Linked DNA regions of Homo sapiens. The protein of the gene in region 2 purifies or fractionates together with the protein of the main gene of each other region. This does not show direct contact. Each region holds a gene or a part of one and is shown on either strand. Other genes may lie near its edges.

Region 1 (3,500 bases), on a different chromosome or scaffold from region 2:
TAAATGTATAACTGAAAGAGTCCATTTTAAGAAAATTATAATAAAATCATTTTTTAAAAGAAATTCTATATAGCAGTGGAAGTGAATAATGTAGATCTGCAGCAAAATATCAAGCAAAAAAGTCTAATATGGAAAGACAGAAAAAGGGATGGAAGGGGAGACTGAAATCTTGACTGGGGAACAGGAGTTGGAACCCAACTCACAGTTCCCACCTCTCCACTCCTATGTGGCACCTCACAAGAGGGATCACAGTTGAAATCACTGATCTAGTCCAACCCTCTCATTTTCAAGGTCTAGAGACCTTAAGGGATTGCCCGAGGTCACAATTAGCTAGTGACACACAGTGGAGATCAGCACACAGCTTTCTATTCTCCCTGTTCAACATGATATTTTTTCCATTTGTCAGAATAACAGCAAGAAAAGTAGACACATCTGACATTATCAACTTTTTTCTTTTTTTAATTAAAGATGGAGTCTTAGAGTCTTGCTATGTTGCCCAGGCTGGTCTCAAACTCCTGGACTCAAGCTATCCGCCTGCCTCAGCCTCCCAAAGTGCTAGGATTACAGGCGTGAGCAACCACATCCCGCCTCAACTTATTTTTAAATCAAATAGGTACTGGGGAAAAGAATATAAAACAGAGTAATTTCTAGCCAGATTTTAGAATTAAGAAAAAAAAAAAAAGGAGGTACACACAGCAATATATATGTTGTCAAGTATACATACTACCTATACATTCTTCTAATATGAACACATTTTTACTTTATTTACAAATGAAAAAAGCCAATTTACTTCTTCCACTGTAATTATGAAAATGCAATATGTGCAAAATGAGAAAAACATCTCAGTCCCAACTTGTTGAAAAATGTACCAAGGCCCCTTTTGAGGCCACATTATCTCCTTTCTCTAGTACTAGCAGCTATTTGCTGGGTAGTGGCATTTCAATCAAGAGAGTCACAGAAAAAGAGACAAGCCTACTAGATCTCAAATAACTGATTTTCAAAAGCTGCTGCAGATCTCTTAGGTAGGAGTAAAAGGAGTATGAGCTAAATTTCTGGGGTTAAATAAGATGGCACAGGGCTAAATACATAAGAGCTAAATTTCTGGGGTTAAATAAGATGGCACAGGGCTAAATTTCTGGGGTTAAATAAGATGGCACAGGGCTAAATAAATAAGATGGCACAGGGCTAAATACACAGAGCTCTCGAGTTCTGTGATTTCAGATCTGCCACTTACCACTTTGCCTTGAAAAATAAGTTAAAACTTTTATTTCATTGCTGTAAAGTAGGGAAAAAGCTAACTACCTTGTAGCATCATCTAGGGCATTAGAGTTCATATGTAACAGCACAGTGCCTGGCTCACATTAGGTACACAATAAATGATAACTGCTTGCCAGTCCTACCTATCAACTGTTTGAACAAAGACTTAGATATGCAATTCAAATGCACACTGATAAATTACAAAGAGCAACTGATTTTAAACAAACGTGATTCAAAACCAACAATATTGGTGAAAGCTATTTTTAAGAAGTACCTGCTGACACCAGAAGACCTCCAGAGGGGAAAAGTAGGACACTCTCCACTGGCTGCCCATGCTCAACGGAGAGAACACTCTCACTCGTTCGTGCATCAAACATCTTCACAGTATGATCATATGATCCTAAAATGTCAATTTTTGAATTTTTAGTTTGACTGTTTAAAACAACAAAAACTGTGTGTATCCAGATATAAATTTTAAAAGGAAAAAAAGCTTAGATGGAGTTTTAAAAAGACATATATGTATATTCATGAAGACACAGGACCTCCAAACCATCTACTACTGATCGTGTCTGAAGAAGCACTACATAATACTATACAGAATCTAACTTGCTCTGATCTTAAAATATTTCTTTCTTTGGACTACTGTCACTACTGAATCATCTGGAAATCTTTGTAAAGGCACCCACAAAGGCTAAACTGCACTCTTTGTTTCTTGGCTGCTTGAGGCAGGGTACTATACATTACAGTTCTGAGAGTCTATTATGTTTTCAAGACAGCCTGATTTTTCCAAACACATTTGGAAGACATGAACAATCAACAAAAGAAGAATAAGAAAATAAAAAACAATTGGAAGCCAGGCATGGTGGCTCACACTTGTAATCCCAGTCCTCCGGGAGGAAATTGAGGTAGGTGGATCACTTGAGCCCAGGAGTTCGAGACCAGCCTGGGCAACATGGCAAAACCGTCTCTACAAAAAAATACACAAAGTAGCTGGACGTGGTGGTGGGCACCTGTAGTCCCAGCTACTTGGGAGGCTTATGTGGGAGGATCACTTGAGCCCAGGAGGTAGCAGATGCAGTGAGCTATGGTCACATCACTGCACTCCAGCCTGGGCAACAGAGTGAGACCCTGTCTGAAAATAAATGCAAACATACATACATAAAAATTAATTTAAAAACTGAAGAATTAATCAGAAACATATTCCTTTATAAAAAAAATTTAAACCCCTCCATCCCAAAAGAGTCCCATAGCAACATTAAAGTACATCCCCGTGAGATTATTTGCTTCAGGAGGGAATAGAGTTCACCAACCTGTTATAAAGAGATCCGGATTAAGTTTGCTAGCACATCCACACCTCACATAATCAGAGTGTTCTTTAAATGTCAAAATTTCTTTGGAGTTTGGAATATCCCATAATTTAACTGTATAATCATCAGCCCCAGAGACCACGTGATATTTGTCAGCTGTAAAATCTACTGTATGAACTGCTCTGAAAGATTGAAGGTCAGTATATTAAAAAGCAAGAAAATTATTTTTCTGATACCTTCTAACATAAAATGCTCCTTTTTCTCAGATTAAAAAAAAAGCAGCTGAGTTTCAGGGAGTCTTCATAGGGGGAAATCATGAAAGAAAGAGAAAACTTACAAGTGTTTGCCCCCAAACCAATTAAGAAGTGTAAATACTCCTATATTGTAAAGTTAAAAAAAATTAAAGGATAGCCTTAAAATTATATTTTCTAGTATATAAACAATTCCACTTAGCTGCTGAATATGGAAGCAAAGGCACTTTAATTTTTAAAATTTCAAAAAGTTCTTTAAAAAACTCTAAAGAGATTTACCACTAAATAGAATCATGTTACATAAATTTCTGTTAAATTTTAACAAATTTCAGCACGGACATTGGCAATCCTGAAAACAAAGTTATAATATAAAATTGTGATGGCCACTTAATTTATTAAGGGGCAAAACACTATAAATTCAAGAAGAAAATCCACCTTCCTACTTGACTTCAACATAAGAGCCTCTAAGACAGTACAGGCCTATAGAGCTGTCATTACCAGCTGTAAGGTTGTCTTCAGGTCAGTAATTCATAATCTCAGCTGGGCCACAGACCCCACTAAAGTTAACCAAAAGCTACAGAGTAGCTCCCTAGATAAACGTGTATTTCCTAAAATATCACATACAATTCTAGGGAATTCATAAGCCCCATGAAACTGGACCACGGAACCCAAGTTAAGCACTCTT
Region 2 (3,045 bases):
CTGAGGATGCATTTGACATGCCAACTCTCATTCACAAAAATACATTGTTAGATTTTTGTTGAACTGCCCCACACAGCACACTAATATGGGGTGTAACACACATACTTGTAACTCCAAGCTGCTTTCAGGAGCTACTCAACTCAATGAGATTGCCTTTGCAGTTAGGGAAGCAACTACTGAACTTATGTATGAAAGAAAAGAACTGTATTCCCTGCATAACAAGAGATTATTTTGGAGACAGTTGATAAAAACCATACATCCTTTTTACTGTTAAGTCATAAAGAGGTGTCAAAATTAAAAGCAAAAATTACAGGGTAAGACTTAGGAAAACTACTAGGGGTGTCATGGGAAGTGAAAATGGGACTAGGCGCAGGGCAATATGAATTAATGAATGTGGGAAGGACAAGGATGGGGAGAACAGTAAGCATGTGCTGAAGATACTAAGGGAGAGGATCTGGTGAAAAATTTGTTGTTAGACAAGCTCCTAGGTAAAGAAACAATGGGATAAGATTTCTCAACCCCACTATGTGCTTAAGAGTCATCCTGGCCATTGGTGCTGTCTCTGTTATCCTCTCCTTCCTCAGCATCTTTTTCATTATTCTTGATCAAATGAAGCTGGTTGTCCCCCTGATCTTCATTATCATCATCATCCAGTGGGTCCCCCTCCTCAGCAGAGTCTTCTGCACCCCCCTCAGACTCCATCTTTACATGAGTCTCATCTTTCTTCATGGAGCTACTGCTCTGCTCCTCTTCTGACTTAGCATTTTTCACCTCTACCTCTTGTTTGCTCTGTTCCTTTTCAATTTTTTCCAGGTTTTCCAGGAGAGAATCCACTTTCTGTTTTATCTGGGTCAACTCCTGCTTAATGGCCTGAAGGTCATCTCCTTTCAGCTTTCCAGACTTGGAAGATCCCCGCTTTCCACTCTTAGAATTGAAGCCACTTTTGCCCCTTCGTGAGGTGTTTCCTGATATGCGCTGGCGTTTCGAGGGCACTACAGCCAGAGCAATGGGAGGAGGAGGAGGTACACGTGCTGGGAAACTGTACATCCCATCATAATAATCCCGTTGAAAGCCATAGTCCAAGTCAAAAGAGGAGCCGTACATCTCCGCTGCGGATCGTTTCACACCTGCGTTTCCTCGGTTCACTTTTGGCTCTGCAGCCAGGTTAATAACTGCAACCTGGCTAGCAATCATTCTGCCATCCTCTCCTGCTACAGCAGCCCGGGCATTTTTCTCCTTATCATATTGAACGAAGGCAAAGCCCTTATGAACAGAGCAGCCCGCAATTTTGCCATACTTGGAAAAGATCGCCTCCACATCAGATTTCTTGACAACAAGAGTGTTGAGATTCCCAATGAACACACGGGAGTTCACGGAGTGAGGATCCATCTTGTTGGTAACGTTGCTGGCCATTGTGTTGGATGATAAGGTTTCTCAAAAAGCCAAAAACAGGAGGCGGGAGGGAGAAGAGATTCGATTCTAAGTCTCCTACTGCCGGGTTCTACGGGGAGAAACTGACTGCGGCTCGAGGCCAGAAATGCAGCCAAAACAGCTCAGTCTTCGTCTCTTCACAAAATGGCTGCCAACAAGAATTCTGAAATGATGTAAAGAAAAGCACAACAACATTTTTGAAATCACGACAAAATTGCATTTAGAAAAAAAAATCAAAGCTTCAAAGTGTTCATATGAAAAAAAGAAAAAAAGACATGATATAGTTCTATGCCATCGTAGGCTGCACTGTCACCGTTCTAGACCGGCTGACTGTAGGTCACATGGGAGTGTCCTTACAGAAATTAGTGACTTACCAGATCTGGTTGTAGTTTAGAAGGTGCTCAGACCTCAGGAAGAGCCAAGCAGGAACTCCAGGCTTGAAGACTTTGAGTTTGTCCTGTGGGTCTTTAGAAGCTTTTATTGACCTTTCTAATCACAACTCCCACCCACGCCCCTCCACGTATCCGCTGCTAGCTTCCAATCAAAAAGCGATATCTGATTGCATTTCTGAAGCTCCACTCAGTTAATCCTGATTGGGTTTTTGACTGTCCGAAGACTAATGGATTGAACGAGATATCCATTCATATCACATATGCATAATCATTTTATGAATTAAGAAATTGACAGAGTTAGGGATAGAGTGGAAATCAAGAATTCATTCACTCAAGGCCAGGTGAGGTGGCTCACACTTGTAATCCCAGCACTTTGGGAGGCCAAGGTAGGTGGATCACCTGAGGTCAGGAGTTCAAGACCAGCCTGGCCCACATGGTGAAACCCTGTCTCTACAAAAATAGAAAAGTTAGCCAGGCACGATGGTGGCTGCCTGTAGTCCAGTTACTCATGCGGCTGAGGTGGGAGAATCCCTTGAACCCTGGAGGCTGAGTTTGCAGTGAGCCAAGATTACACCATTGCCCTCCTGACTGGGCGACAGAGGGAGATTTTGTCAAAAAAAATGCATTCATTCATGAAATCCACAAACACTGATGGAATTTTACTGCTATTTCGCCTTCAAGTCCTGATGTGAGGCAGGGAAGGGGTTGATCTGTTCCAGACATTAGACAGAAAAATAAAACCTGAAAGTAGTGTTGTGGGGAGATCTTTGGCCACATCAAAATTATAAAATTTATAAAAATATTTCTAGTTAAAATAGCTGTATAAACACAGAGGAGTCGTCCCTACAAAATAAGAATAAAGATCTCCATGTATGGAATGGTCTTGTGGGTTTTATATCACCTAAGGTAGCAGTTTCTTCACTCGTGCTGGTGGAAGAGAGGTGCCACTGAGGGCTTGAGTGGTCTCAGGGCTTAGGTTAAGTCTTCTCTGGAAGAAATTGAAATGATACCTGTAAACTTTATAAGTTTAATCAGTGAAGAAGGGAGGGGGAGAAACAAAAATAAACCAAGCTTGCAGCGCATTCAGCATTCACCATGAGGTCAGCTTGCTCTCTGACCTTCTTCCTCATGGTTGCTGGCAGCTTACTGTCCCCAAATCAAGTAGACCTTAGCTTACAGTTCCCCTTAACTACCCTGCAGACAACAATTTAAGCCTTGTAAA
Region 3 (3,500 bases), on a different chromosome or scaffold from region 2:
CCTCTGGAGGAGACTTCACAGGACACATCTATGTCCCGCCAGACCAGGTATTTGCAGAAAAGGAGAAGAGAAAAGAGGGCTGGGGACATCCCCTTCCAGGGATTGTTTTGGGAGGGCCGGTGACTCCGCTGCGGCCACCTACCCTGGTTGTCCAGCTTCTGTAGGCGCGGCAGGGTGCGCAGCACGGTCATGCGGTAGCGGTGGGGGCTGGTGCCGCAGCACGGGTTCTCGGCCAGCCACAGCACCCGCAGACGCGGCAGCCCCTTCAGGTAGAAGAGCTCAGCCAGGCTGGGGATGCGGTTCCTCCGCAGGTACAGCTCACTCAGGCGCTGGCACCGGCTCACAGGCTCCAGGGTGGAGATGCTGTTGACACTGCACGGAGACCAGCACAGTCAGCGAGGGACGTGGCCAGGGCCCCCAGGGCCACCTCTCAATCCCCACCCCCAGTAAAAGGCACTCATGGGACCTGTGTCCCTGCCCTCTCCTGAGAAGCCTAAATCGGATGTCACAAGTCACGTGCAGCAGGACCTGGGCCGAGGAGAGAGCTGTAGGAAGGCCAGGCCCTGAACTCAAAGGCGGACTGGGGTGGACCCCACCAGCAACAGCCCCTTGGCCCGACGCTCCACATCAGCTCCTCAGGGCGCTAGAGTGCGGGAGGTGGGGGATGTGGCCCTCCTTCACAGGTGAGGAAAATTAAGGCCTCTCAGGGGACATATCATGTTGCCCCAAAGCAGGGAGCGGCCAGAAAAACTCATGGCAAAAACTAGGAGCCAGCTCCACGTGACATGGGAGTGAGCACGGACCTTCCAAACCCCCACTTGAGGGCGGCAACACTGGGGATGGGCCTCATTTCCATTCTACAGAACGTGGACGCGTCAGAGAAGAGAAACAGCAGGCCTGGAGCGGGGACCTGCAGGCTTTACCCTGCAGCGTGGGGTCCGTCCCCTCCACAAGCGAACACGCGGAGCCGCTCCCGCAGGCCCTCAAAGGCGCGGAGCCAGGGCCCCCTGCCTGGAGGGCTGCACTCGCGTCCGGCAGGCGCCTCAGAAGGGCGGTCACCAGGCCCCCATGGGCAGCCTGCCGTCCTGAGCCCCCCTCCCCATGCCATCCCTTCACTCGGGGTTTCCCAGGTCTCATGCAGCTCCTAGCTATGAGGCCGCCCCATTTTACCAAGAGCAAAACTCCGGCTGTGGGACTCTTTCCAGGATGGGGTCTGCCTCAGGCACAGGCAGCAGCGTGATGTACCGACCGCGTCCGCGGCCTCGAGGCTTCCTGCTCCGCTCCAGTGCAGTCAGGCGTGCAGGCACCACGCACCTGAGCTCGGTCAACACCCCTGGGGTCCTGTCCCTCCCGAGATGTGACAGAAATGGCCCCACACACGAGCGGCCTGATGCTCGGAGGCCCTGTGGCCCCTGGGTGACTCAGTGAGCGGCAGGGATAGGGCTGGATCCACAGCCCCGCCCCAAGCTTCCTGCCACCGTGGGAACCACAAGCTCCACGTTTCCCTGTCAGGTAAGCCTTTCGGAGGCAGGCCTGAAATCCCAGCCTCACTGTGTCGCCTGACTAGTGAAACGAGCCCCGCGGCAGGCACGCGCACCCCCCCTCAACCTCTGGGCGGGCACGCGCACCCCCCCCCCCCCCCCGCTCAACCTCTGGGCGGGCACGCGCACCCCTGCTCAACCTCTGGACTCGGGCTCCATCTCCTCCTCATCTCCCTGTGGGGTGGGCACTTGTAATACCTCCATGTTACAGAAAGGAAACTGAGGCACAGAGAGGGCCATGCCTCGCCCAAGGTTAGCCAGCCAATAGATGGGAGGGCTGAGATTTGACCCATGAGCATGCCTCCAAGCCCATTTCATTCATTCAGCAAGGCTCGGGCAGGACAGGCTGGTGCCCGCGCTGGGGATGCCTGAACACCAGATGGACTGGCCTCAGCCCATGGCGGGCAGCAGGCTGGGCACGGGCATCAACATGGCAATGCCAACCTCAGAGGGCATTACGGAGGATGGGCAGGGGCTGGCCTACCCCGTGGCTGCCTGTGAGATCAAGAAGGTAGGTCACAGTCAGGGACCAGGGGCCTGCAATACCCACTCTCAGAGGGCAAGCCCTAGAGACTTCTGAGCTGCCAGAGGGGTGGGCCTTCCCCACAGGGTTTAAACCCTTGTGAGCTTTTAAATGCGGAAACCCACAGAAGGCGCCCATCCAGCGTCTGGTGGGCAGTGGTGAGCCATGAGCGTCTGCTCCCTCCGTGGGTCCCACAGTAGGCAGGAGGGAATTCAGGGATAAAGGGAGCTCTTCTCTTCCCCAGAGCCCCCAAATACACCCCAACTGCCTGAAAGTCCAGTAACATTTGTTCATTCAAGCTTCCCTTAGTCTGCTGGGAGGGCAGTGACCCCAGAAGACGGGCACAGGTCATGGGGTGCAGAGAAACTGGTAGGCAGTGGTGGCACTGGGGGGCAGAAGAGGCCAGGACTCTGGGGGTCCCAGGGCAGATGTGGCCACCGTGGGGGCGGCCAGGGCGGGCCACCGTGAATCCTTAGGAGGGCTCCACCACCGACTGGCCCAGTGAACACAGCAATGGCTTATCGGAGCACACAGGCCAAGGGTGGGCAGGCGTACAGCAGGGCAGGCAGGGGACAGGAGCCATCAGGAGGCCCAGGTGAGGCTCTGAGGAAGGAGGGCTGAACATGGGGGCCACAGGGTAGGCCCAGCTCTCGCTGTCCCGGCCCCTCCCCTTCTGGAAGCCGCCCTCAGTCTGTGTTGGAGGTTTCCAGGTTATGTCACAGTGCTGGGTCCCACTGGAGGGACGTGAGGCTCTGCCCCGGCTTCCAGGCCCCAGGCTGAGCATGACAGCAGGAGCGAGGTACCTGAGCGTGATCACCTCCAGGCTGGGCATCTCCTGGCAAATGGAGATCTAGGAGGAAAAGAACATGACTAGCAAGCATGGCACAGCAGGGCATCGCGGCCGCACTGCCATCAGCCACAGAGAACTGTCGAAGCCACGGCCAACCCACTTCCGGGGCCTGAGGGGCACGGCCTTACTCAGCCAGTGTGCCCAGGGTGAATGCCCAGGGCCTGAGGGGAGCGGCCCTGCTCAGCCAGTGTGCCCAGGGTGAATGCCCAGGGCCTGAGGGGAGCGGCCCTGCTCAGCCAGTGTGCCCAGGGTGAATGCCCAGGGCCTGAGGGGAGCGGCCCTGCTCAGCCAGTGTGCCCAGGGTGAATGCCCAGGGCCTGAGGGGAGCGGCCCTGCTCAGCCAGTGTGCCCAGGATGAATGCCCACGAGTATGCCAGGTTCTCCTCTGACACCACCTTGCAGCCCAGACGCCCCGCAGACTGAAGGAGAAATGTGAGGCTCCTCCTTGCACGCACTCTGTCTTTATTAAATTTTACGACAGCATCGTTGCTGTCAGATGCTGCCAGCAGTGGAGACAGAGCATTCATTACTTTAGATGCCCTCAAAGGACATCAGGTAAGGGGACCCCAATGTCCCCTACGCAGGG
Region 4 (3,500 bases), on a different chromosome or scaffold from region 2:
AGTAGAGACAGGGTTTCACCATGTTGGCCAGGCTGGTCTTGAACTCCTGACCTCAAGTGATCCACCCGCCTCGGCCTCCCAAAGTGTTGGGATTACAGGCGTGAGCCACTGTGCCCGGCCATCTCTTTCTTTTTTTAAACAGGAATGAGGTCACATTATATAGTTCTACAACTTGTTTCTATCGCCAAACAATCTCCTGCAACCCCCAGCAAGTGACGATACATACATGAGGCACAGGGTTGTAAGGCTCCAAGGAGGCAGGGCATAGAAAGCTTGTAACAGTGCCTGGACCACACTTAGTGATCACTAAACAGCAACCATCCTTCCTTCCCTTCCAAGGCTGTAATACAGAACATACACTACGTGCCAAGCAAGAGTGAGGGGCTAAGGATACCCCAGCGAACAGGGCAGATGGGCCCAGGCCTCATGGAGATTCCAATCTAAAGGGGGAGAACAGTCAGTGAACAAAGAAACAGGTGGCTACAAACTGGGGTCCAGGCACAAAAGGGCAAGGAAGACACTGTGACATCTGTGCACGTGTCTACCTCCTACCTCACTGACAATCTCCTAGAGGCCAGGGCCTGGGTCGGAGTCATCTCTGGTCCCCAGTGCCCAGCATGGAGCAGGAGCTCGGTCAGTATTTGCCCAACAAAGATTGGGAAAAGAGAGAGTTCCCTAAAGCAGAGCCAGGAGCCCTTAGTTACTTTCCCTGGCCATTTACTAACCCTAACTGGGTCCCAGCTCCTTTCTATCCGCTGTGGTGCGGATGAAACCTGCCCTGTCCTCCTCATGAGTAAGTACCAGTGAGACCTAGGTGTGGATCTGTTGTGGACACTCTAAAATGCTATATGGGTCAGGGGACCATGGTCATAAAGAAAGGCTTTTTTTTTTTTTAATAGACAAGCTCTTGCTTTGTCAAACTCAGGCTGAAGTGCAATGGTGCAATCACAGCTCACTGCAACCTCCACCTCCTGGGCTCAAGTGATCCTCCCACCTCAGCCTCCTGAGTAGCTGGGATCTCAGGTGCGTGCCATCATGCCCAGCTAATTTTTTTTTAATTTTTTGTTGAAACAGGGTCTTGCTATGTTGCTCAGGCTAGTTGCAAACTCCTGAGCTCAAGTGATCCTCCCGCCTTGGCCTCCCACAGTGCTGGGATTACAGGCATGAGCCACTGTGTCTGGCCAAGAAAGGGTCTTAATTGTGAACTAAACAGAATTAGCAAAACAGGCACACGCCATCATGCCCGGCTAAATTTTGTATTTTTTGTAGAGATGGGGTTTTGCCATGTTGGCCAGGCTGGTCTCAAACTCCTGACCTCAGGTGATCCGCCTGCCTCAGCCTCCGAAAGTGCTGAGATTACAGGCGTGAGCCACTGTGTCTGGCCTCATCATCTTTAAAATGAGAATAATCACAGTATCTGCCTCTTAGGGTTATTGCCAGTATTAGGTGAGTTAATACACACAATGCATCCTAGCAGTGCCTGGCACCCAGTCAGCGCTCAGAGAATGGGAGCTAGTGTTAACATCAGGATCTGCATGGCCATGTCACAGGGGAGGAAGTGAGACACAGAAGGATGTGGTGGCTGGGCCCAAGTGAGGGCCGGAAGGTCAGAAGCCTGGCCTCTGAGCAGGCACCGGCGTGGCTGCAGAGCCACACTCACGTGGGGCAGGGCGAGGGAACACCGGCTGCTGCACTCGTAGGCCTCCTTGTGGCGTCCCAGTTCATTGAGAGCGCGTGCCTTGCGGAACAACGCCCGGATACTCTCACTGTCCAGGCCCAGCGCCTTCTCGCTGTCCTCCAGCGCCTTCTCATACAGGCCCTGCCAGAGAGGAGCATGTGGTCACTGGTCAACACCTGTTACCCTCCCTCCCCCAGGCCTCCTGCCCCTGCCTAGGAAGGAACACCAGCTTCCCTTCCTGGCAGAGACAGAGGAGCTGAAGTCTTGGGTCAGGGACAGGGCTCGAGGCTCCAGGAGAGAAGGAAGCACTCTGGTGTCCAGACTCTGATCAAGGGTGTCTGTGTGTCCAGCTGATGGGGCTGCAGTGGGCACGGGCAGGATATTGCAGGGAAGGGCCTGAAGATCTACAACCATGAGCCCGGCCACTCAAGCACGTCTATTTCCATCTCTGCCTTTGGTTGGGAACATGATGAGCTGAGAGTAACAATGGCATCTCTAAGAGGCAGTGAGACCATGAAGGCAGCTCTGTGTGCAGAGTGTACAAGGGTTAACCCTGAGGCATCCAGGAGCCATTTATCCAGAAGAGTTCGCTGGATGGCAGAGGTGTCATGGGGTCCTCTAGAGAGCCTGCAGCAGAGCCTCCCACAGGATCTCATGAACCTGAGTCAGTGGGTGCACAGGACAGGGAAGAGGAGGAGGCTGCAGCTCTAAGGAGGAGAGGAGGAGGAGGAGGAAGGCACTGAAGTCCGCAAAGAAACAGGAGGCTGAGGCTATGGGAGAAACAGTGAGGAGGCTGAGGCTATGGGAGGAACAGTGAGGAGGCTGAGGCTATGGGAGGAACAGTGAGGAGGCTGAGACTATGGGAGGAACAGTGAGGAGGCTATGGAAGAAACAGTGAGGAGGCTATGGAAGAAACAGTGAGGAGGCTGAGGCTATGGGAGGAACAGTGAGGAGGCTACGGAAGAAACAGTGAGGAGGCTGAGGCTATGGGAGGAACAGTGAGGAGGCTGAGGCTATGGGAGGAACAGTGAGGAGGCTGAGGCTATGGAAGGAACAGTGAGGAGGCTGAGGCTATGGAAGAAACAGTGGGGCCGGGAGGGAGGAGCAGGAGAAGTCAGACTCCCACCAAGGCCCAGGGTCACCCCAAGATTCTAACTTACTTCATCTAGGGCAGGGCTAGGGCTAGGGCATCAGTATCATTTTTTTTAAAAACTTTTTATTATGCATCCGTACTTTTAAAAGCTCTCCAGCTGAGCATGTTGTACAGTTGAGATTAAGAGCCACGAGAACAGACAATGAAATTCTGAAAGCAGGCTGGGAGGAGGCTGGCCCTGGTCTACAGGCTCACTGGGGTATGGGCCTGGCTCGACTGGGCATCCAGGGGATCAGGGCAGCAGAGGAGGAGAGAAAAGAGGGTGCCAGGCTCACCATGGTGAAGTAGCAGGCGGCCCTATTGACATGCAGCTTGCACAGCAGCTCCCGGGGCAGGGCCACCTGGTCAGAGGCAGCGTAGTCGGCCACGTTCAGCCCTTCCATGTACTGCACCAGAGCCTGCTTATAGTCCTTCTCCCGGAACAGATCATTGCCCTCAGCAAACAGATTCTGCACCAGCTTGAGCAGAAAGGCCTGTTGGGGGCAAGGTGTGTAGGGGGCTCATGACCTCTGGCCCCAGCTCTGGCACCCGGCCCACGCCTCTCCCCTGCACATCTCCGCCCTTCACCTTTGCTCAGCCTGGCAGCTGACACTCACCTCATATTCTTCTTGCTTTAGGGGTAGTGTCGACCTATCAGGAAAAGAAAACACGAGGCCTGGGTGAGCCCGG
Region 5 (3,500 bases), on a different chromosome or scaffold from region 2:
GTGGGAGGAGCTAGGTTTGATGGACAGAGCTTAAGGGACAGAGCCAAGACTGATGATAGGAGGAGCTAGGTTTGATGGACATAGCTTAAGGGAAGGAGCCAAGACTGATAGGAGCTAGGCTTAATGGATAGCGCTTGAGGGGAGGAGCCAGACCTCGTGGGAGGAACTAGGCTTAATAGCGCTTGAGGGGAGGAGCCAGGCCTGGTGGGAGGAACCTGGGGGAGGAGCCAAGCCTGATGGGAGGAGCTAGGCTTAATCGACAAAGCTTGAAAGGAGCCAAGACTGATAGAGGGAACTTGGGAGGAGCCAGGACTGGCGGGAGGAGCTTGAGGGGAGGAGCTGAGCATGGTAGGCGTGGTCTAACAGGCAGTGGCGGGGCCTACCATGAGAATGGGCTGGTGCCTCAGGTCGGCCTCGCGCACCGGGCGCTCGGGCAAAGCAGGCACTGTGCCCCTCCGCGCCAGCAGGGCCAGCAGTGCAGAGGGGTTGGGGGGTGTTTCAAGCTGTGGCAGTGCCTGGCGCCAGGCTCTGCAGTAGAGCTCGGCTGAGAGCAGCAGCCGTGTCACCGGGGGCTTCACATGCTCCTGCGCGTACTGGTCGGTATAGAAGGGCTCCCACAGCTCCGGGGGCACGTGCTCTGTGGGGGCATAGAGGGGAAACACGGGGGTCAGGGTCACCAGATACAACACACACACACACACACACACACACACACCACATGGCCCGGATTAAGAGTGTGTCTGGACCAGGGAGGATGGCATTGGGAAAGGAGAAAGGGGATCTGGGCTGAGAGTGCAGATGTGCAGGAGTTTGCTGGAGGAAGGGGTGATGGCGTTGTAGGCAGAGGGGCCTGCAGATGCAAAGCCCAGCAGGTGGGAGAGAACACGGTGCCTCAGGGAGCTGATGGGCACTTAGAGTGGAAAGGAGGGGAGGCTACCCCCAATACCAGGCCAGCTGGACTGGCTCTTGTAGGTCCCAGGAAAGACAATAACATCGGCAATCCTAAGAGCCTTCCTGCTCTTGCCAATGTAGACTCACTGAGCCTTACATCAACGCTAGGAGGCAGCCAGGGCCCAATTGGCAACCCCCATGTTACAGAGGAGGAAACTGAGGCACAGAGAAGGAAAGTCCCTTGCCCCAGGCCAAATAACTCTTCAACACCAGGACTGGGGTTAGACCCAGCAAACTGGACGCCCTCTCTTAGCTTGCAGGCAGGGGGGGATGAGTGGGGGGCACACAGGCGAGCAGGGGAGGTGGGCACACCACAGGCACATCGAGGGAGTTGAGTGATGTAAACCTGGTGATTGAAGGGAGGAGGCAAGGGACAGAGAGGGAGGTAGCCAGGACCTTGCTGGGTCTGAGGGGGAAGAGGGAAGAGAGGGGTAATGACTGAGCTTGGGTGCAGGAGGAATGGGAGGTGAAGGGGTGAAATTGAATGTGAGGGGCTTTGAGGACATCCTTGAGGCAGATTATGTGAAAGGCTGGGGCTTAGAGAGATGGTGAGGTCACATCATAGAGACAGCCTGAGGTCCCTAAATAGGACAATGGGAAGAGGCGTGAGGAAGCCCCAGGTGGACAGTGGGCTGGGGGCAGAAATCCACGTAGGACCAAGAGTGGAGAGGAGAAGGCCAGGAAGGCTTGGCAGGGGTCGGGGAAGAGGTGACTGAAATCAACAGCAGGGAATCTGTCCAGCTCTTGTTCTAATCTGCACAGCTTTTGCGGTTTTTTGGAGATAAGAGTCTCTCTGTCGCCCAGGCTGGAGGGCAGTGGTGCAATCTTGGCTCACTGCAACCTCTGCCTCCCGGGCTCGAATGATTCTCCTGCCTCAGACTCCCAAGTAGCTGGGATTACAGGTGCGATGCTGCCATACCCGGCTAATTTTTGTATGTTGTAGAAACAGGGTTATCACCATTTTGGCCAGGCTGGTCTTGAACTCCTGACCTCAAGCGATCTGCTCACCTTGGCCTCCCAAAGTGCTGGGATTACAGGCGTGAGCCACCACGCCCAGCCTGCACAGCCTTCTCTGTTTGTTTGAGTTTTTGCTGGAGTGCAGTGGCACGATCATGGCTCACTGCAACCTGAACTCTGGGCTCAAGGGATCCTCCCTGCCTCAGCCTCCTGAGTAGCTGGGACCGCAGGCACGTGCCACCACACCCAGCCAATTTTTAAATTTTTTTATAAAGATGGAAGCCTCACCATGTTGCTCAGGCTGGTTTCGAATTTCCTGGCCTCAAGTGATCCACCTGCCTTGGCTTCCCAAAGTGCTGGGATTATAGGGGTAAGCCACTGTGCCCAGACTTGTTTTGTATATTGGGGTTCTGTGTGTGTGTTTGAAAGAACGGGGTGGGGGCCGGGTGCAGTGACTCATGCCTGTAATCCCAGCACTTTGGGAAAACAAGGTAGGCAGATCTTTTAAGGTCAGGAGTTCAAGACCAGCCTTGTCAACATGGTGAAACCCCATCTCTACTAAAAATACAAAAATGAGCTGGGCATGGTGGCACACGCCTATAATCCCAGCTACTCGGGAAGCCGAGGCCGGAGAATCGCTTAAATCTGGGAGGCAGAGGTTGCAGCCAGCTGAGATTGCGCCACTGCACTCCAGCCTGGGTGATAGAGCAAGCCTCTGTCTTAAAAAAAAAAAAAAGAAAGAAAGAAAAAAAAAGAAAAGAAAGAACAGGGTAAGGGGTTCTAGTGCTTCAGAACATATTTGAACGGGACTTCTCCACCTGTGAGGACCCAGGCACTCTTGGCTGCCTTCTGTCCCTCCCTGTCCTGGCTCCTTTCCCACCTTCTAAAACCACACTGGACCGTCCCACTTAACGCGCCACCCGCATGTAGACTTGGACCTTCTTTTTGCCCCTCTCATCTTGGCTCCTTGAAAGAAGAGGTATTTCAGGCTCACTTCCTCCCTGCCCTCCCAGCCCCCCTCCACCTCTCCCTCAATTTCCCTGAGCTCGATGCTGCCCTCATGGCTTCCGGTCTCCCCAAGGCCAGCAGGGACCTCCAAAGCATATCTGTGGGCCCGTATCTCGCCTGGGCTCTGTGCCCAGTGCCTCCTTCTTCCAGAAACCTTCCTCCCACAGGCGTCTCCTTGTAAATGGACATGCCCCACCCCCACCCCAGGCCACCCTACCCCGTGACGGCTTCCAGGGCCACCTGAAGACTGCAACAGCGGCTGCCACGGGCCCCACTGCACCCTGGGCATCTCCCACAATTCTCAACATCTCACCCACACCTCCCCTCCTCCCTGCCCCCAAGGCAGTGAGAAATCACCCTCCCTCCCTTTCTTTACGCCCTCACCCCACATTTAATGCGTCCTTGGCTTTCAACTTCCTGATATCTCCCAAATCCAAACCCTCCTCTCTACCTCCCCAGCCCCGGCCTTGGGCACGTCTTGCTCCCACCAGCAAAATCACACGTGTTTCTTTCCTACAGGACTTTTCAGGGCCTTTAAGATGAAAAACAAGAAACAAAAAACACCAAAACCTTAAGCTAGGGCT
Region 6 (3,500 bases), on a different chromosome or scaffold from region 2:
CAGTGAAAAACAAACTAATATAAAGCATTCCAGTTGATAAAAACCTCCTCAGGCTTATGGTTTGTTTTCCAAGGAAATTATGTTTCAATGTAAAGTTTGAAATACTCCAGACATACATTCCATGTAGGTTTTGGGTGCCAATGTTAAAATTTCAAATTTTGCATGCAAGGCTTAGCAAAGAAACACTGGCAGAATTCCAGCATTTGCAAAATTCTAAGTTTTGGTGAATATTGTAAATATTACAATTGGTATTAGAAAGCCATGATGAATCCAGAATTAAGAGAAAACCCATTTCATAAATATTTTGTTTGATTAAAAAATACCAGGCTTACCATGTTCTAAATAATTCAAGAAAATATCTTTAAAAAAAAAAGGACTGCAATTTAACAGTAATCTGTATATCTTTAGCTGCCATTAAAAAAAGAAAAAAGAACAACCAAAAACAATGAAAATGTTACAACTGGTATAAAGTAACCCTATGATGCTCCCCTTACGAGAAAACAAAACTGTACACATTTATAAACAAACAGTCTCTCCCATCAGTTAACACACAGAGCCTTCTCTACACCAAAGTCTCTTTCCGTTTGCCACCAGAAAGGGCTTTGTCCCTCGCTCTTCGGATGCCGGGCTGTGTCTGGTGTGTCTTTAAGCTCTTGCTGTCCTCTGCCATCTGCATGCCAGAGCCACATCTGTAAGCGTTTTCATCAACTTCTACCTGAGTAACACTGGAAACTGTGGATGCCCTCCTCTGGGCTGTGAGTTTCCTCGCAGAGGGGTGGTTCCCCTCACACTCTTCGTGCAGCTCCGGCAGGCCCTGCAGCTCAGGTGGACTGCCTGCCGACTGGAAGGGGGCAATGGCCGCTCGAATACAGTTGAACCACTGCTGCTTGTGGAACACGTCATTGGCTTGCAGAGTGTGAGACTGGGCTGGAGAGGGGTCATGGAAGCGAATTCTAAAGATATTTTTAGCTGAAAAAAAAAATTGGAAAAAAAAAAGAAATCAGGCTAAAAAAAGGTTTATTCTAGACAAAGTGGTCATACAATCTTAACGTGACTGTCAATTTATGGCAATTTATTTATGTCAATGTGAATACATTAAGCCTATGCATTATTTCTTAGATACACCTGCGGGTGTTCGAGCTGGGAAGGCCTGGACAACTCAATGGATGTAACAAGTATAGGACAATGGAGCCATTTCATCTCTAGAATTCTTAAAGGCAAAACTAAATTCACTTCAGTTCTGAGCTTCTATTTCTTTAAATTATTGAAGGCCTGCATTTTACCTTTCTCTGAGTTACTGAAAGCTCCTCGAAAGGAGCCTCCCATTCTCACATCTCCATCCTGCAGGTCTTCTAGGACTAGCTCTTGGACTGGGATTGGCTGCCGGTAAACCTGGTAAGAGTGCCGTTCGTTCCGTGTGACGGGCCGAGTCAGAACCAAGATGTCTTGAAACAGGAAAATGTAAAGTTTCTGGAGAAATGGGAAACAAACGCTAAATAGGAAACTTGTGTTTTTAAGTGACTGAAATATATTGCTAAAATAACTCGACATTATTAATTTCATCAGATTTATTTTTCGAAGATCTCTCTAAGTGACAAATCTAGTAATCCATAAAGATGGCAATTTCAAGGCTAAGCATGTTCTATTTGGAAAGTTTTTCCAATCTCAGAATAAATAAAATGTTTCTTATTGGTATGTAATATCAGATTAAGCAGCAGCTAAGTGAATGCTCTGCATCACAAAGACCTATTAGTAGCAACATGACTTGAAACACTAGCGTTGTATACCACAGTTTTCTAACACGAAGGAGGGATTAAAAATGCAAGCTGGTAAAATGTTAATGGTTCTATTTTGTCCCACACAAATTTATACCTTTATAAATTTTCCCCTCGTGAGGGAAAAATCAAAGATGTCAGATTTCAAATTTTTTTAAACAAAACTCCAACTTATAAATTGGGCTTTTGAAAATGCATGATGAAACAAAAATACCATTCCGTGACTGCACTTAGTTCTAGCAGGTACTTTTATAATTAGCATTTAAAAAATACATTTGCATTCATTCAATCTGCTTCAGAAATTTGTTATGTAGTGCGAAAAACCACTTTCATAAGCATAAGATAAACTCTTAGAAGTTTTTTTTGAAGGATGCTTTTTTATTAAGCATTATGGAACTAATACTGTATTTAGACAGGAACCCCTGGCCTAACAAGTTGATTTATGCTTCGAAACTAAAAAATAAAGTATTACTGATTCTCCACTGAGACATTTAAGGTATCTTCTTTGTTGGCTTTATCAAGCTGGTAATATAAAATTAAAATTGGCAACCTTCTTTTACTATGTCATGACTTTCCCTTTACAAGCCTGCTTCATAACAAACGTGTAAAAGTTAAAGAGGCAGGAGGGAAGGCTGCTCTGCCACGGCAGCAAAAGTCACCTACATGTCCACTCTTGCTCCGCAGCTCCCCATGGCACAGCAGCACTTTGCTCGCTTCGATTCTGGGGTCCCTCTGCTTTTCATCCAGGTACTCCAGCTTGTCGATGTAATACTGGCACTCGGATTCACCTTTCTTCAAGTTGATATCAGAGAGGACTCCCTGTATTATCAATATCTGAAAATGATAAATAAAATTGACAGAGCAGCTTCAGTTTATTAACTCATTCTGCTTCCTGCAGAGCAAAAATGTCATATGGAATGGAAGAACTTTAAAGCTTGAAGGGACTCTAGAAATCAGTTAATTCTGCCAGTCTGTTCATTTTATAGATCAAGAAACAGTCCTAGCCAAATTGAGTGATTTGTTCAAAGGTGACAAGGTGAGATCAGATGAGAATCCTGTCCCTTAAGATACAAAATGTGCGAAGTCCAGCATACACAGCTCCTTATTGCTTAGTGCACAGCGTACTAACGCACTGGGTACTTAAAACAACAAAACAATTCACTATGCTGATGTGAATCAGCATCTTCAGAAGATAACGTTCTAAAGCAGCCTAATGTATAAACTTAAAAAACAAAACAATCACTTAAGGGACTACTTACAGCATCCTCCAGAAGCTGAACATCAGGGTGCTCTTTTGGAGTGTGTTTAAGAATTTCTTTTAACAGTAAAGGGTATTTGACTAGGCGACTTCGAGGGATATCTAGGAAACTCCAAAGATCTAGTTTTCGACTGAAGGGAGACTCGAGACATCGCTGGAGGAAGTCTTGGACTCTTGGATCCTGTTTCTTTTGATCAAGAAGAGCTTTGGCTGCCAGCTGGTTACTACAGTAACCTCTGTAGGCATTCAAGCGCGGTAACTGAAGAGTAATAAAAGAAAAGGTATGATGTGTTCCTGTTATGACCGAGTGCATTAACAAGCCTGCAAACATGAAACACAAAATGTACAGCTATTCTTGAGAGTTTTAACAAGCTGTGGACATTTTCTGGCAGATAATAATGGAAGCTGAATAGCATTTTAGCAATCATCAAAATGCTCTTCAAATTTTCATAATTTGGCTAAATCCA
Region 7 (3,500 bases), on a different chromosome or scaffold from region 2:
GCTAAAAGCAAGCTAGCACTATCAAATAAGATTACAATACTATTTTAAAACAATGGGAAATAAAATGATAGAGATTCATATTCAAAAATAAATGCAATGTCATTTTTAACCATCAACTATCAAATACATAAAGTTACAATACCAGGCCAGGTGCAGTGGCTCACGCCTGTAATCCTAGCACTTTGGGAGGGTGGGGCGGACAGGTCACCTGAGGTCAGGAGTTTGAAACCAGCCTGGCCAACATGGCAAAACCCCATCTCTACTAAAAATACAAAAATTAGCCAGGCGCAGTGGTGGGTGCCTATAATCCCAGCTACTCGGGAAGCTGAGGCAGTAGAATTGCTTGAACCTGGGGAGGCAGAGGTTGTAGTGAGACGAGATCATGCCATTGCATTCCAGCCTGGGCGACAGAACGAGACTCTGTCTCAAAAAAAGAAAAAAAAGTTACAATATTAAATTGGGTAAGGTACTGAAAAAGAGGCATCTCAAATACCACTGATGAGGGGGTATTTTGATTAATCTTTCTGAAGGATAAATTGACAATAGGCATAAAAATTCCTTAAAATTTTGTGGATTCTTTGATTTAATTGCAAATCTAGGAATTCATTCTAAAGAAGTAATCGTAATTGTGAGCTAATATCTATAATGTAAAAAAATCCTACTTTTCTAAAGTATTATTCACAGGCAAATACATTATTAAAGTATAGATTTTCCTCTTCTTTTTGGGTTAAGAAATTGCAAGCAATGAGCCCTCTTACAAAGGGAAAACTCGATCTCAACGGCAACCAGACCCAAAACAGAAAAAGTTTGGGACAACATTTCTTCAGTTACAGCTAAATAAAAACAAAATGTTGTTCATTTTTCTTTTCTTTTTTTTTTTTCAGGAGTACCCTGTCGCATTCTCTGCAATTTTTAAAAACAAATCACAATAACTATAGATGCTATTGTATATATTCTTTTAGATATATTTTGTAGCAAAACTGGGATGTTACTACCTCACTGTCAGAATAACTTACTATACTGGTTAAATATTAGTATCCTTATTTATAATTTGAAAATTTTACCACATTAAGGTTGATTTCCCTAACTCATAGACAAGGCAAGAGAGTCAACCTTAAATGACAGGCCTACTTTTGATGTTCTACTCTGTTTCTATTTAACTAGAGAAATTGAATTATATGTATCCTAAACTTATGAATTAATTATTCAATTCTAATTTTTTTGCTTTGATCAAACTGGCAAAACAAATAGCTTTTCTAATCATATTTTTAACTTCTCATTGGTATATCACTTTATGACATGATCTAGTATTAACCATGTGGTTCAAATTGTCTGGTATCTCTGGACCTGATAAACTTAATGTGAGAATCCCTCGAGAAGTCAAAACAGTGCTTTTGAAAAAATTAAACACATAAAATATACCTATAAAATGCAAATATTTCAGAAGTTCATATTGAAGCACTTGAATAAATGGTCAGAAGAGAATTTAAATATTTTATAAAGTGAACCATATAATTAAGTAAATACTTGAATTTCATACAGTTTGCTAAAGCCATCAATCTCCCATGCCAAAGATTCTAATACCACAGTAATAGTAGTTTCCAAGTGTGTCCTAATTTGTGTTTCTTTCTGAAGTTTCTACGAACCTACCTCTTTCTCAGTCTGGTTAAATAAAAATAAAACCAACAGTGCATACAATATGCATATACGTTCACTCAGTATAGATGCTGTGTTTTTTTTTGTTTTTCGTTTTGTTTTGCTTTATTTTTTTTTTTTTCTCTATTTTTTTGATAATGGAGTCTCACCCTGTCAACCAGACTGGAGTGCAGTGGCGAAATTTCGGCTCACTGCAACCTGTGCCTCCCGGGTTCAAGCGATTCTTCTGCCTCAGCCTCCCGAGTAGCTGGGATTATAGGCGCCCGCCACCACGCCTGGCTATTTTTTTAGTATTTTTAGTAGAGACGGGGTTTCACCGTGTTAGCCAGGATGGTCTCAATCTCCTGACCTCGTGATCCCCCCGCCTTGGCCTCCCAAAGTGCTAGGATTACAGGCGTGAGCCACTGCGCCCAGGCGATACTGTTAGTTTAATGTCAAGAACAAAAGACTGGCCGGGCGCGGTGGCTCACGCCTGTAATCCCAGCACTTTGGAAGGCCGAGCCGGGCGGATCATGAGGTCAGGAGAGAGAGACCATCCTGGCTAACACGGTGAAACCCCGTCTCTACTAAAAATACAAAAAAATTAGCCGGGCGTGGTGGTGGGGGCCTGTAGTCCCAGCTACTTGGGAGGCTGAGGCAGGAGAATGGCGTGAACCCGGGAGGTGGAGCTTGCAGTGAGCGGAGATCGCGCCACTGCACTCCAGCCTGGGAGACAGAGTGAGACTCTGTCTCAAAAAAAAAAAAAGATTGGAAATGTGAGGTATATACTATTTTGATTGAATACCAGTGAGATTCCCAATCATGGATGAATTGTGATACTTTACCCAAGGCTTTAATTTTTAAATGTCTGCATTTGATAATGCCATGTTATACACAGTCCTACTTTCTATTAGGTTGGTGCAACAGTAATCGTGGTTTCCGCCATTACTAATGGTTGTAGAAAACTAACGATGCACCTGGAAATCACCAAAAGGTGCCACGTAAGAACTAACACCAACTTCTGAAAGAAAGAAAACCATGAACTCTAACATAACTTTACTAGATTAAATATGTGGAATATCTTTCTAATTTATTTAAATGTTACTATTTTAATTTTGGATAATACTCCACTTAAGGGTTTTAGACCTCCCAAGTGTGTTACAATATATCTATGATCTATAAGAAAGAACTGTCTAATAGGTTTTCTATAAACAAAGAAAGGTTGGAAAAAGGTATCTATCTCCCCACTTTGGCCTCAAGTTTAAAGCTACTGAGAATTGACTCTTGGGTATGAACATGCTGAACACATAAAAAGCAGCCTGACTGGGAGAAACCGTAAGGGCCAGAGGTAAAGAGAAACAGTGGTTCTCTTTGTTGTACGGTTGCCCTATCAGTACCTTGAAATCATCACTCAAAACTAAGAGTGTGTATTATCAATAACAGCACAATTTTTAAAGTACCAGACCTGGCTTCTTTCACCAAGTAACTTGATTAAAAACAAAAACAAAAACAAACACTTTCATTCACAAAATTAGACATTCCAACTATATTTCGGGGCAGACAAAAATCGACAAAGAGAAAATGATCTATAAAATAATACTTAATTTTATATTGCCTTAGAATTTGACTATCCATATTATGGATATTTTGCATGCTGAAACCCACAGCTCAGTCGTCACATATCCTTCTGCTTCCCAGCTGGTGTGTGTTCACAGGGAATGCAAAGTAAATTTCTTGTAGCCTTGAACACTATATAATTAGAAAGAAAAATCTGCTGCCAGAAGGAAAAAAATATCCTGTATAATGCACTCCCAGGCCAAATATAGAAGATTGCTGGTCTTTCCACTGTTTTGGCTTATATATAC

The links.
Region 1: the proteins of HNRNPCL2 (region 2) and UTP15 purify together in Homo sapiens (affinity purification with mass spectrometry; one large-scale study listed by BioGRID and IntAct). This does not show direct contact.
Region 3: the proteins of HNRNPCL2 (region 2) and CFAP410 purify together in Homo sapiens (affinity purification with mass spectrometry; one large-scale study listed by BioGRID and IntAct). This does not show direct contact.
Region 4: the proteins of HNRNPCL2 (region 2) and ZC3H7B purify together in Homo sapiens (affinity purification with mass spectrometry; one large-scale study listed by BioGRID and IntAct). This does not show direct contact.
Region 5: the proteins of HNRNPCL2 (region 2) and CAMSAP3 purify together in Homo sapiens (affinity purification with mass spectrometry; one large-scale study listed by BioGRID and IntAct). This does not show direct contact.
Region 6: the proteins of HNRNPCL2 (region 2) and NET1 purify together in Homo sapiens (affinity purification with mass spectrometry; one large-scale study listed by BioGRID and IntAct). This does not show direct contact.
Region 7: the proteins of HNRNPCL2 (region 2) and GUCY1B1 purify together in Homo sapiens (affinity purification with mass spectrometry; one large-scale study listed by BioGRID and IntAct). This does not show direct contact.

What each region holds. Positions count from the first base shown.
Region 1 is NC_000005.10:73,568,743-73,572,242, reverse strand, and holds part of UTP15 (U3 small nucleolar RNA-associated protein 15 homolog), read right to left. Parts: intron 2,747-3,500; coding exon 2,568-2,746; intron 1,658-2,567; coding exon 1,532-1,657; intron 1-1,531. UniProt on the Homo sapiens protein: Ribosome biogenesis factor. Involved in nucleolar processing of pre-18S ribosomal RNA. Required for optimal pre-ribosomal RNA transcription by RNA polymerase I.
Region 2 is NC_000001.11:13,114,988-13,118,032, forward strand, and holds HNRNPCL2 (heterogeneous nuclear ribonucleoprotein C-like 2), read right to left. Parts: upstream 1,868-3,045; 5' UTR 1,806-1,867; intron 1,595-1,805; 5' UTR 1,414-1,594; coding exon 532-1,413; 3' UTR 501-531; downstream 1-500.
Region 3 is NC_000021.9:44,332,891-44,336,390, forward strand, and holds part of CFAP410 (nuclear encoded mitochondrial protein C21orf2), read right to left. Parts: intron 2,915-3,500; coding exon 2,868-2,914; exon of another isoform or gene 373-2,867; coding exon 143-372; intron 1-142. UniProt on the Homo sapiens protein: Plays a role in cilia formation and/or maintenance. Plays a role in the regulation of cell morphology and cytoskeletal organization. Involved in DNA damage repair.
Region 4 is NC_000022.11:41,325,525-41,329,024, reverse strand, and holds part of ZC3H7B (zinc finger CCCH domain-containing protein 7B), read right to left. Parts: intron 3,462-3,500; coding exon 3,428-3,461; intron 3,305-3,427; coding exon 3,107-3,304; intron 1,820-3,106; coding exon 1,661-1,819; intron 1-1,660. UniProt on the Homo sapiens protein: May be a specific regulator of miRNA biogenesis. Binds to microRNAs MIR7-1, MIR16-2 and MIR29A hairpins recognizing the 'ATA(A/T)' motif in the apical loop.
Region 5 is NC_000019.10:7,602,363-7,605,862, reverse strand, and holds part of CAMSAP3 (calmodulin-regulated spectrin-associated protein 3), read right to left. Parts: intron 638-3,500; coding exon 384-637; intron 1-383. UniProt on the Homo sapiens protein: Key microtubule-organizing protein that specifically binds the minus-end of non-centrosomal microtubules and regulates their dynamics and organization.
Region 6 is NC_000010.11:5,454,057-5,457,556, reverse strand, and holds part of NET1 (neuroepithelial cell-transforming gene 1 protein), read right to left. Parts: intron 3,293-3,500; coding exon 3,035-3,292; intron 2,610-3,034; coding exon 2,439-2,609; intron 1,471-2,438; coding exon 1,284-1,470; intron 970-1,283; coding exon 563-969; 3' UTR 1-562. UniProt on the Homo sapiens protein: Acts as a guanine nucleotide exchange factor (GEF) for RhoA GTPase. May be involved in activation of the SAPK/JNK pathway Stimulates genotoxic stress-induced RHOB activity in breast cancer cells leading to their cell death.
Region 7 is NC_000004.12:155,790,021-155,793,520, reverse strand, and holds part of GUCY1B1 (guanylate cyclase soluble subunit beta-1), read right to left. Parts: intron 1-3,500. UniProt on the Homo sapiens protein: Mediates responses to nitric oxide (NO) by catalyzing the biosynthesis of the signaling molecule cGMP.